Regions from separate parts of the Homo sapiens genome. Here region 2 is linked to region 1. The links come from fine-mapping of genetic effects on gene expression. Tissue or cell type: whole blood. Region 1 holds a variant in brackets; the other region holds the start of a gene. All regions are shown on one strand. Distances are between the middles of the regions.

Region 1 (5,148 bases):
AGCAAGTGGGAGGAGCACTTAAATGGTATTGACAGATTACTAGAAGCTGAGGGTAGCCTGGCTAGAACATTAAAAACTCCTTGAAGACCAGACTAAGGGGGAATCTCACACATTTCCAAGTGTTACTACAATGATCTCAACCAGGTTCTCATGATGAAGTTCAGAAAAACTCCCTGAGGTTTGGCACTACCAACTTCAGGACTTACATTAAGCTACAGTAACCCAAATAGTGTGAAGTTGGTGAAAAGAGAAAACACACACATATAGATGCATAGAAAAGAATACGGAGCCCAGAAGCAGGCCTACATACAGTCCACTGATCTTCCATGGAGGTTTAGAGACAATTTAAAGCAGCAAAGATAGCCTTTCCAACTAGTGGTGCTAGAACAGCTGGACAACCACATGCAAAAAAATAAATAAATCCAGGTATGCATGTTATATACCCTTTATAAAATAAATCTTACACGTAAATGTAAGGTGCAAAACCATAAGAATCCTAAGAGATAAAATAGGAGAAAATCTGAGGGATCCTGGGTTCAATGATGGCTTCTTAGATACAAAACCAAAAGCACAATCTACTAATGAAAAAAAATTAAGTTGAGCCTCATTAAAATTAAAAACTTCTGTTGTGTGAAAGACACTGTTAAGAGAATGGAAAAAGCAAGTCACAGACTGGGAGAAAATATTTACAAAATAATCTGATGGAAAAACTGCTGTCCAAAATATATGAAGAATTCTGAGAACTAAACAACACAAAGCAAAAAAAAAAAAAAAAAAGGTGAAAGATCTGAACACCTCATTAATAAGATATACAGATGGCAAATAAGCATATGAGAAAGATGCTCAAAATCATTTGTTGTGAGGGAATTGCACATTAAAACGAGATATCACTGTAAACCTATCAGAATGGCTAAAACACAAAACGGTGAACACACCAAATGCTGTCGAAGATGAGGAACAACCAGAACTCTCCATAGCTAGTGGAAATCAAAAGTGTACAGTCACTTTGGAAAACTTAAGTTCATTCAAAATCCTGCACATAAGTACTTGCAGCAATTTTATCATAATTGTCAAAACTTGGAAGTACCCAAGACATCTTTCACCAAGTGAATGAATAAACAAACTGTGTTGTAGCCATACAATGAAATCTGATTCAGTGATTTTACAAAACAAGCTGTCAAGTCATGAAAAGACGTGGAGGAACTTAAAAGTACACAATGCTAGAAAGAAGCCAGTCTGGAAACCTACATACTGTAATTCCAACTCTAGGACATTCTTGGAAAGTCAAAAAGATAGAAGTAGTAAAATGATGAGTGGTTGTCAGGGGTGGAGGAGAGGAGGAGGCACGAAATGGTGAAGTACAGGGAATTTTCAGCAGTGAAACTATTTTGCATGATGCTGTATTGGGGATTTAGGACATTACATAATTGCCAAAACCCATAATCTGTGAAACTCAAAGAATGAACTCTAGTGTAAACTATGGACTTTAGTTGATAATGATGTATCAATAGTGGTTCATCAATTGTAATGAATGGACCACACTAATACAACATACTAATAGGGGAAACTGTGTGCTGGAGGACAGGGGAGCCTAGGAGAACTCTCTGTACTATCCACTCCATTTTTCTGTAAACCTAGAACTTTTCTAAAAAATAACATCTATTACTTTTTTTTAATTAGGATGCAGCAGCCCCATACCAAGGTTTTGGTGGCATCCTGTTATTGTGTGGTTAGTACTTGGCATTGAAGTGCACCAACCTGGAGTCAGAGCAGTTGGAGATTTCAATGCCTGTGCCATTTACCTCTAACCCTGGGGTGCCCCCAGAACACAGATAGCAGATCAGTTAGGCAGAAGCAGCCTCAGTCATCTAGACAGTGCAGGGTTCTGGTAAGGACAGGTGCAAACCATCTAGGTGGGCAGAACTTGGTGATGACTAGGAACCACTGAGACTCAGCAGCTGCCCCAGTGGCACCCACAAATCAGAGGAGGAGGAGGCTGGGAGGACCTAAGGGCTACAGGACGAGCTCCCTGCCTACAAGACAGAAGCAGCTCCAGAGGTTTTGGTAAGTAATGTAGATTTCAGTGCAGTGTGGTCTATTTAAAAAA[G/A]TAGAACAAAAAGGAAAGAAAAAGAGAGAGCATGAGAGACAAAGAAAAAGAAAAGAAGAAAGGAAGAAAGGAAAGAATGGAGGGAGGGAAGGAAGGAGGAAGGGAGGAAGGAAGGAAGGAAGGGAGGGAGGGAGGAAGGCAGGGAGAGAGGGAGGAAGGGAGGAAGAAAGGAAGGGAGGGAAGGCAGAAGGGAAGGAGGGAGGGAAAGAATAAAGAGAGAGAGAAAAAGAGTGGGAGAGAAGTAGGGAGGGGAGAGAAGTAGGGAAGGAAGGAAGGAAGGAAATGAACAAACTTACATGAAGATGAGAACATCCAGGGGAACTTACACCACCAGTATTTTCCATTAACAGGAACACGCTAACTAGTTATTGGAGACAGACGCACTACTGTAAAACTATATACTGTTTCCATGGGGTACAACCCCTTCTTCCTTCTCTGAAACACATTATTCCTCTGGCCCACTGTTGCCAGAGACACTGAGTCTTGTCTTTGGATAAGTTCTGGTGCCCAAAAGAATGAGATGAGACAGTGGATCCCAGAACACCAGGCCGCAACCTTCCCTGCTGCTCCTTGTCCACTCCAGAAGCTGCCCAGCTGCAGGTGGGGACCTCAGCCCCTGGGTCTGACATCGTCCATTTGTCATTCTCACTGGACTTCCCTCCTTGCACTGGCTCCCACTCCCCCAGGACCTGGTGGACGGCCACGTGAGAAGGATACAAACAGGCCATGCCCCTTTCTTTCTCCCCCTCTCAATGCCTGCAGTGGTGGGTTCCATGGGGTAGTGACCTGAGATTTACTCGTTATGGGGTCTCTAGCCCAGAGCAGGGCATGGTGCCTAATAGTCACCCCATGAATGCTCAGTGAAAGAAGACATCCACCACAAGGTCCTGGGGAACCAAGAATTCCACTGTGGCCCATAAATTCTAAGTCCTACAGGATTCTGGAATGGGAGATGGGAACGGCCTTCAAAAGTGGCCTCTCTTTTAACCCATTATACTGGCAACTGAGCCATGTTTCCCCATCCTGGACACATCTAGAGGGCACTGCCTAAAACCACACACATCTCCCCACCCAGGACAGTGCAGGGCCTTAGCCTGGGGGATGCGGGTGGACAGGGAGGGGGTGAGCCATGAAAGCTGAAGAGAAGAAAGCAGGTGAAAGGGGACGGCAGGGTGGAAACAAGAGACGGAAATGGGGGCAGAGAATGGGGGGTAAGAGGGGAAGAGCAAGGAGTGGGATGTAGATCTAGCTACTAAGGAAAAGTCCTGGAGAGAACACTGTCCTCTCCTGAAGTAAAATCACTTCCACCTGACAACAGCACTGCAGGTCGAGGGTGGCACACGCTGTGAATATTTGTTCATTCACTTAACAAATATTAATTCAGTATCTGTTTCATGCCAGGCAAGGCCCTGCGATGTTTAGGGCCCTTGGCATCTTCCCTTCACATCTGAGTCATAATAGAAAAAGGACTCTCTGACTCCATCGAGCTGGCAATGCCTCAGGGTTTTTACCTGTGGGATCTGGCAGCTCTTCATTCGGCCCACACCGTGTGAGGTTGCTCTTGGTGCACCGAATGGGGAAGTTTCTACATCAGTACCTCGGAGAGTCCACTGGAAGCCCTGGACAGTGGGAGTTGGTGGCACCCCCAGCGTGGAGGCCAAGAACACACAGCACTGAAGCTCCAGGACACCCTCAGGAGGACGGTAAGGGACGGTAAGGTGAGAGCCTGGGTCACCAGGAACCTTCGCCTGCATCTAAACAGGATTTGCTTTCAGATTGCCTATGAGATAAAAGAGAGAAATCATGGTTAATATTGAGATTTGGGGCTTCGGCAACTTGAAGGATGGAGCTGCCGTTTACGGAGACTGGGAAGACCCAGGGAGGAGCAGGTTGAAAGGTGGTGGGGAACTAGAATTGTTTGGGTTCCTGTCATATGTAATCAACAGTCCTCACCAGCCTCGGCAACATAGTAAGACCCCATCTCTGAAAATAAAAAATGAAAAATTGGCCCAGCATGGTGGCACACACTTGTAGTCTCAGCTACTCTGAAGGTTGAGGCAGGAGGATTCCTTGAGCCTCGAATTAGAGGTTAGTGAGCTATGATGGCACCACTGAACTCCAGCCTGGGGGAAAAAAAAATAAAGAGTCCTGACTAAATACTTGAGTAGCCAGGGAAGTTTTCACCAAGTAATACTTGAGGCAGATCTTAGTGAACAAGAATTCGATTCTTTCTGTTAGGGAATTAAGAGTGTGTGGGTGTAGTTAATGCTTCTTTGGAATCTCATCTACTGGTCTATCTGGTCTATCTGTACACGTATATTCTACAGGCTGTCTCGCTGAGCTTTCGCTAGGTTATGCTACAGTAACAAAAGCCCCAAAATCTTAGCAGCAACACATACAAAGGTTTACTTTTCATTGACATTTCCTTTTATGTCAGGTTGACTGTGACTCTGCTGTATACAAGCTATTTTATTTGTTAGATGGTGAAAACTGTGACACTTGGAGATTGTTGAATATGGTATTAGTATGTTCATTCATTCATTCATTTAACAAATATTTATTCAATATCTGTTTCATGCCAGGCAAGGTCAAGTACTGAGAATACAGTGGTGAATAAGAGACAAAATCTCAAATTTCCAGGAGCTTATGTTGAAAATGAGATTGAACACATACAAAATAATCATAATAACAACAATGAATACTATATTCATAAATAATAGCTGTAAGAGATTTTAGTAAATCTTTTAAATTAGAAAAACATAAAAATTATTAAAACTAAAATGGCCAGCGGTGATGGCTTATGCCTGTAATCCCAACACTTTGAGATGCCAAGGTGGGAGGGTCATTTGAGCCCAGGAGTTTGAAACCAGTCTGGGCACTACAGGAAAACCCTATCTACAAAAAATAGAAAATTAGCCGGGCATAGTGGTGCATGCCTGTAGAACCAGCTACTAAGGAAGCTGAGGTGGGCAGACTGCTTGAGCCTGAGAGGTCAAGGCTGCAGAGACCCATGATCATACCACTCCACTCCAGCCTGGGCA
Region 2 (5,148 bases), 710 kb after region 1:
GCCAACAAACACTCCTCCTCTCCTGCCAAGAGTTTTCAGCGCCTTTAAAATGTTCTCCAAGTTTCAGCACCAGACTCCCAGCATCCACCCAGCTGATTCCTGACTTCATGGAACAACCCCTCATTATGGATGAGGCCTCCCATTCCTCTCAATTCTGCCCTCATCCCTCCCTATCCCCACCCCCTCACTGGGGTATCAGGTTTCTAATTTCCTTTAGAGAGGTGAAAGCACTTGATTGCCACCCTCTTCCCAACCTGGTGCTCTGGTGGAGGTGAGAGTCAGAGGCTGTTCTGCAGGACACCCCACTGCCTTTCCTGGTTGTTCCCCAGAGCCACTGATACAATTTCACACAAGAAAGGAGGTGACAGATGTGAGGAGCCTGCCACCCGTCCAATCCTACTCAAGTCCTAAGCCCTTGCCCACCAATTCTGTGCATGATGATTGGACCTTTCTCTGGCTTTTCCAGAAGGGGAACACGCAAAGGTTAGGGAGCTGGATGGTCTAATTCGGGGCTATGCTCTTGTGTCATCTGCTCAACTGTCTCCTGCGTATTAGCCATGCTCCCTAACCAGCTTACAAACTTCTTGAAGGCAGGGACCAAATTCTTCTGAGTACAGGGCAGAGCTGGATACTTGGATATAGTGTCATGCCATGGTGACAAGATCCACGCCAGCAGATACAAAGGCAGACAAAGTGAGCGAGGCAGTTTCCAGGACCACGTGGTTGTGGCACAACTAAAGCAACAACAGCAGCCTCTGCGGTCTAAGGGGTCCTCGGAGGAGGAGACGGCTGAAGGTGGTGGACAGGGCTGAGGCGGGCAGAAGGCGGTTGTGCGATTTGGAGGGTGGGGGAGAATATACTGGATCAGGTGAGGTAGAGACTGGGCAGCTGGGTCGACTACAGAGGTCGAAAGTGCAGGCACTGGAGTGAAGAGTTCACAAAATAAATATTCCGGACAAGGCCACCAGGCCCAGCAGGCCTTTTCAAACACGGTGGATAAAGATTTGAAGTAGATTAATTATATATCACAACAAAAGGAGATAAAAATTTGCTAAGACTATAAATCATCTGGGAGCGTTTGGGATCGGATTCTAGTCGAGTCTGGTCACTCCCAACCAGCGATAAACCAAAGGTGGGGAGGAGGCTAAATCTGGACCCCAGCGCTCCCCGCCCGCCTCCCTTTCCTCCGAAGGCTCCCAGGAGGCAGAGGGGCGGCGAAAGCACGGAGCAGTCTTGCATCAGACGAGGGGCGGGTACGTGTTTGCTGCCTTACGAGGGCTGCCTTCCCCTCCAGCTGCCCCAGCAGCCACCAGACTGGTTGGGTCTCCGCCAGCTTCCCCCCGCCCCCCGACCCCCCCAACCCCGCCACCGCCAAGGCAGGCTAGAATCGGCGGGGCGGCCCAGAACTTGGTTGGGAAGAATCGCCAGTCCCTGGGTTCCCCGCAAAGAAGCCACTTTGGGGCCCCTCTCCCGATCGCCCCGCGCGGAGGCGGTTGGGGGTTGGGGGAGAGGCGGCGCGAGGCTGCCAGAACAATTGCGCGCTAAGGCGCTGGGGCGCCGCGCTGGCATCCCGCGCTGGCATCCGCGAGCAGCCTGCAGGACCAGTTGGAGCAGCCCGCACTTTGCAATGCTAGCGGAGGCATGCCAACGTGAAAGACGCGGTTGCAAACTAAAAGAAAAGTTTGCATCTCGCCGCCGTTTGTTCTTCCCTCTTTCTGCCTCCTCCCGCCCCCGTTCTTCTCTACCCCCCAATCTCAGGAGGCCCCGGAACTAATTGATACGGGGTGCATGCGAGGGGGGCGCGCTGGCCTGGGCGCAGCCAGCCTTTTTCCATGGAGGTTGCCCTAGAGACCTCAATTTTCTCTCTCTCGCCTTACCTGCAGCTCCGCTATCAGCTCCTCTTTGCTAAGGTTCTGCTTTTCCACCACCTGCAGCCCTCCATCTTGCAAGATCTTCCGGCAGCAAGGGTCCAGGCTGTCACTGATGAGCACTTTCCGCAGATTTGCAAAAGCCATTGCTGGAGTTGGCCTCGGAATCGGCCGCTGTGAGTAGAAGTACCTAAGCCAAGAAGCTGCGGTTCGGCCTGGCGCGCTAGAGTAACTGGGCAGTATTCTCCAGCTCCCGCTCCCCAGTCATCTCCTCCTCCTCCTCCTCTTACAGTCTCCTTTTGATTGGACGGAAATACTCAAACTCTCCGCGACTCCGCCTCCTCCTCGCGGCTCTGAGGTTGCCAAATCCCTGCCCGCTTTATTATCCTCCCGCGATGAATTTCTCCATCTCAGCCAAAGCTCTTACCTACACCTGGTGAGCATATAAAAAGCACAATTTACGCTGACTAGCTGATGCATATCTGAAATGAACGGAGAAATACACCTCATCCTGAGAGAAAAACTTCATTTTCACTTTTCCTCCTAAGGATTCATTTATTAATTCCTTACGAAATTTTTTTTGAGTGGGTAAATGTGCAAGGCACTGTGCTAGACGTTGAAGGGAATTCGACTATCAAAAAGAAAATGTCCAACAATGATAGACTGGATTAAGAAAATATGGCACATATACACCATGGAATACTATGCAGCCATAAAAAATGATGAGTTCATGTCCTTTGTAGGGACATGGATGAAATTGGAAATCATCATTCTCAGTAAACTATCGCAAGAACAAAAAACCAAACACCGCATATTCTCACTCATAGGTGGGAATTGAACAATGAGAACACATGGACACAGGAAGGGGAACATCACACTCTGGGGACTGTTGTGGGGTGGGGGGAGGGGGGGAGGGATAGCATTAGGAGATATACCTAATGCTAAATGACGAGTTAATGGGTGCAGCACACCAGCATGGCACATGTATACATATGTAACTAACCTGCGCATTGTGCACATGTACCCTAAAACTTAAAGTATAAAAAAAAAAAAGATACATCCTCTTTCCTCTGGTGGCCTAACATCCTAGAGTACCAAACACACAGACTTGGAAAGTTACGTAGTGAAAAGCAATAGGAAGCTTTCTGAGACACCAAGGAGCTGTGATTAATTTCAAATTAGTGATGCAATGAGAATTATGAGTTTATAAAAGAGCGGGGACCTGGTGCATTTAAACTAGGCATACTTTGTTAAAGTTATTTATTTCCTTTCCCTCCACTTCCTCTCTAATTATGAAAAAGAAGAAAAGGAAAACGGGATGTCAGTGTGGTTTAATTGACCAAGGAGGCACTTCTCAGCTCTTAACTCTTTTATATTTAAACCCCATAACCGACGTGCTCTCTCATGCCCCATTTTACAGAAATGTCAGAAAATTCAATTTGGGATTAAAGTCACCTAGAATCAGAAGCAGAATCAGAGATGCTCATAGTTGAATTAGAATTCAGCTTTATGGACATATCCAGTCCAACTAACCATTGTGTGTTATGTCATCCTGAGCTATTCATAACTCAAGTGCTAGATCCTTATCCTACAGAACTATGCAATATCAATTCTATAAAGTAATGAAAATTCTATACAGATAATTCCTGGGCACAAATCAGATTTTTAGACACAATGTCCTCAGTGGGTAAAAAAAAAAATTGTCTATCATGTTTGCTTGTTCGGATGAATTGTTATTCCTACATTCCAAGACTCATGAGTATTCAAATTCTCTGTCTCTCTTGAAGTGCCCAGCAGTACCCTGGAGTCTAGGGACAGACAGGGGACCTATCCCAGGAGGCTTAATGGAGGGTCTTGGGAAGCATCCATTTTTGTAACTGCTTTCCTTCAACTCCTCCCAGGGCTCACTAACTGCTTCCTTTCAGTGTAGAATCTAAACCCTGCTATCATTAACATGTAATCCCACCCTTTCACACCAAGTCAAACTTCTTGGATACTGTCTGAACGCACAACCCAGAGGGCCTCCTAAGCCTGATCACCTGTTTTCTTTATTTATTATTTATGACCCACCTACTTTTTAAACAGATCCAAGCCACACAATAAAAGACACTTCTAAACCGTTAAGAAAATAATTAACAGATTAAGAGTCCATTTCCAAGTGAAAAGGAGGGTGTGTGATAATTGTTACATAAGTCAGAAATGTTCCCTCCTTTTAAATTTCTATAGAATTAACTTCAAGTTATCTCACAGTGCCTTAAGCAATATATTTATGAACTTTTCATGTCTTGTTCCCCATGAACTCTCATTTCCTTAAATCAGAGACACGATTTTGTATACCCCCAGTAGTGCCTAGCACCATGCCTTCCACATCACAGAGGCTCAGAAGAGGTTTGATTCAAAAATTAATTTATCCAGTACCTCCTATGGGCTAGGCCCTGTGACACATAAGACACAGCCTTCTTTCCTCAAAAAGAAAAAAGAACAACATTTTAAGAAGAGTACCCCGGCATGGTGGCACATTGCTGTAGTCCTATCTACTTGGGAGGCTGAGGCAGGAGGATTGCTTGAGCCCAGGAGTTCGAGGCTGCAGTGAACCATGATTGTGCCACTGCACTCCAACCTGGGCAACAGAGTGAGACCTGTCTCTAAAAAATAATAAAAAAAATTAAAAAGGTATAGTTTAAGAATTATAAATAAAGGTGTGCTGGAGGGCTTTGGGAGCAAGGAGGAGAACCATCTCCTGAGGTGCCAGGAGGATTTCCAAGCAAGGTTGCCTTTCAGCTAACCTTTTGAAACTCATTCAAGGCAGCTACTTTGAGAGGCTCAAGGATACAGAGATAGGTAAAACATAACCTGCCTTGAAGCTGCTCATGGTTAACTGCCTAATCTTGAGAGCTGAATATGAATTAGCCGGGGGAGAAGAAATGACATTTCCAAAGGCTTAGAGTTGTGAGGAGTTGCAACATGTTCATGGCTTCTCTACCATGGCTGTGGGGGATGCCAGTGGGATACCAGGAGGTGAGACTGCAGAGGGGCCAGGGGCTGCTCATGAAGTGTCTTGCCCTGAGGAGGAGTTTAAACTTGACTCCAAAGTTAGTACAGAGGTACCGAGTGATTTTTAGAAGCGATATCATCAAATGTGTTGCTGGTCGGGCTGAGACCTGATACTGCCAATACAGATATATCCCTCACCACTACACCCCAGAATCTCCAACATCAATTGCAAACTAAGGGTTTTTCTTTGATAACTGAGGGTTGGAGTTGGGGAAATTTCTCCCTC

Evidence for each region. PIP is the estimated chance that this variant, and not a neighbour inherited with it, causes the effect. A credible set is the group of variants that fine-mapping cannot tell apart.
Region 2: PHGDH starts here. The variant in region 1 is the best candidate, but not a certain one, in a credible set for the expression of PHGDH in whole blood (TOPMed, PIP 0.53).

Annotation. Positions count from the first base shown.
Region 1 is chr1:120,418,589-120,423,736 of GRCh38, reverse strand. NBPF8 (NBPF member 8) reads right to left here. Exons shown (of 23, transcript NM_001037501.5): 2 at 3,619-3,887. Among named protein-coding and RNA genes, the nearest start is that of NBPF8, 6.1 kb to the right of the region's middle. The variant G/A (reference allele first, on the strand shown) is at 2,108.
Region 2 is chr1:119,708,890-119,714,037 of GRCh38, reverse strand. PHGDH (phosphoglycerate dehydrogenase) reads right to left here and starts at 2,104. Exons shown (of 12, transcript NM_006623.4): 1 at 1,878-2,104. The coding sequence starts at 2,015. It overlaps LOC105378937 (a long non-coding RNA gene), which reads left to right and starts at 2,192. Exons shown (of 3, transcript XR_947757.4): 1 at 2,192-2,304. RefSeq lists a silencer at 1,452-1,551 and enhancers at 1,692-1,781, 1,832-2,111, 2,252-2,301, 1,783-2,312.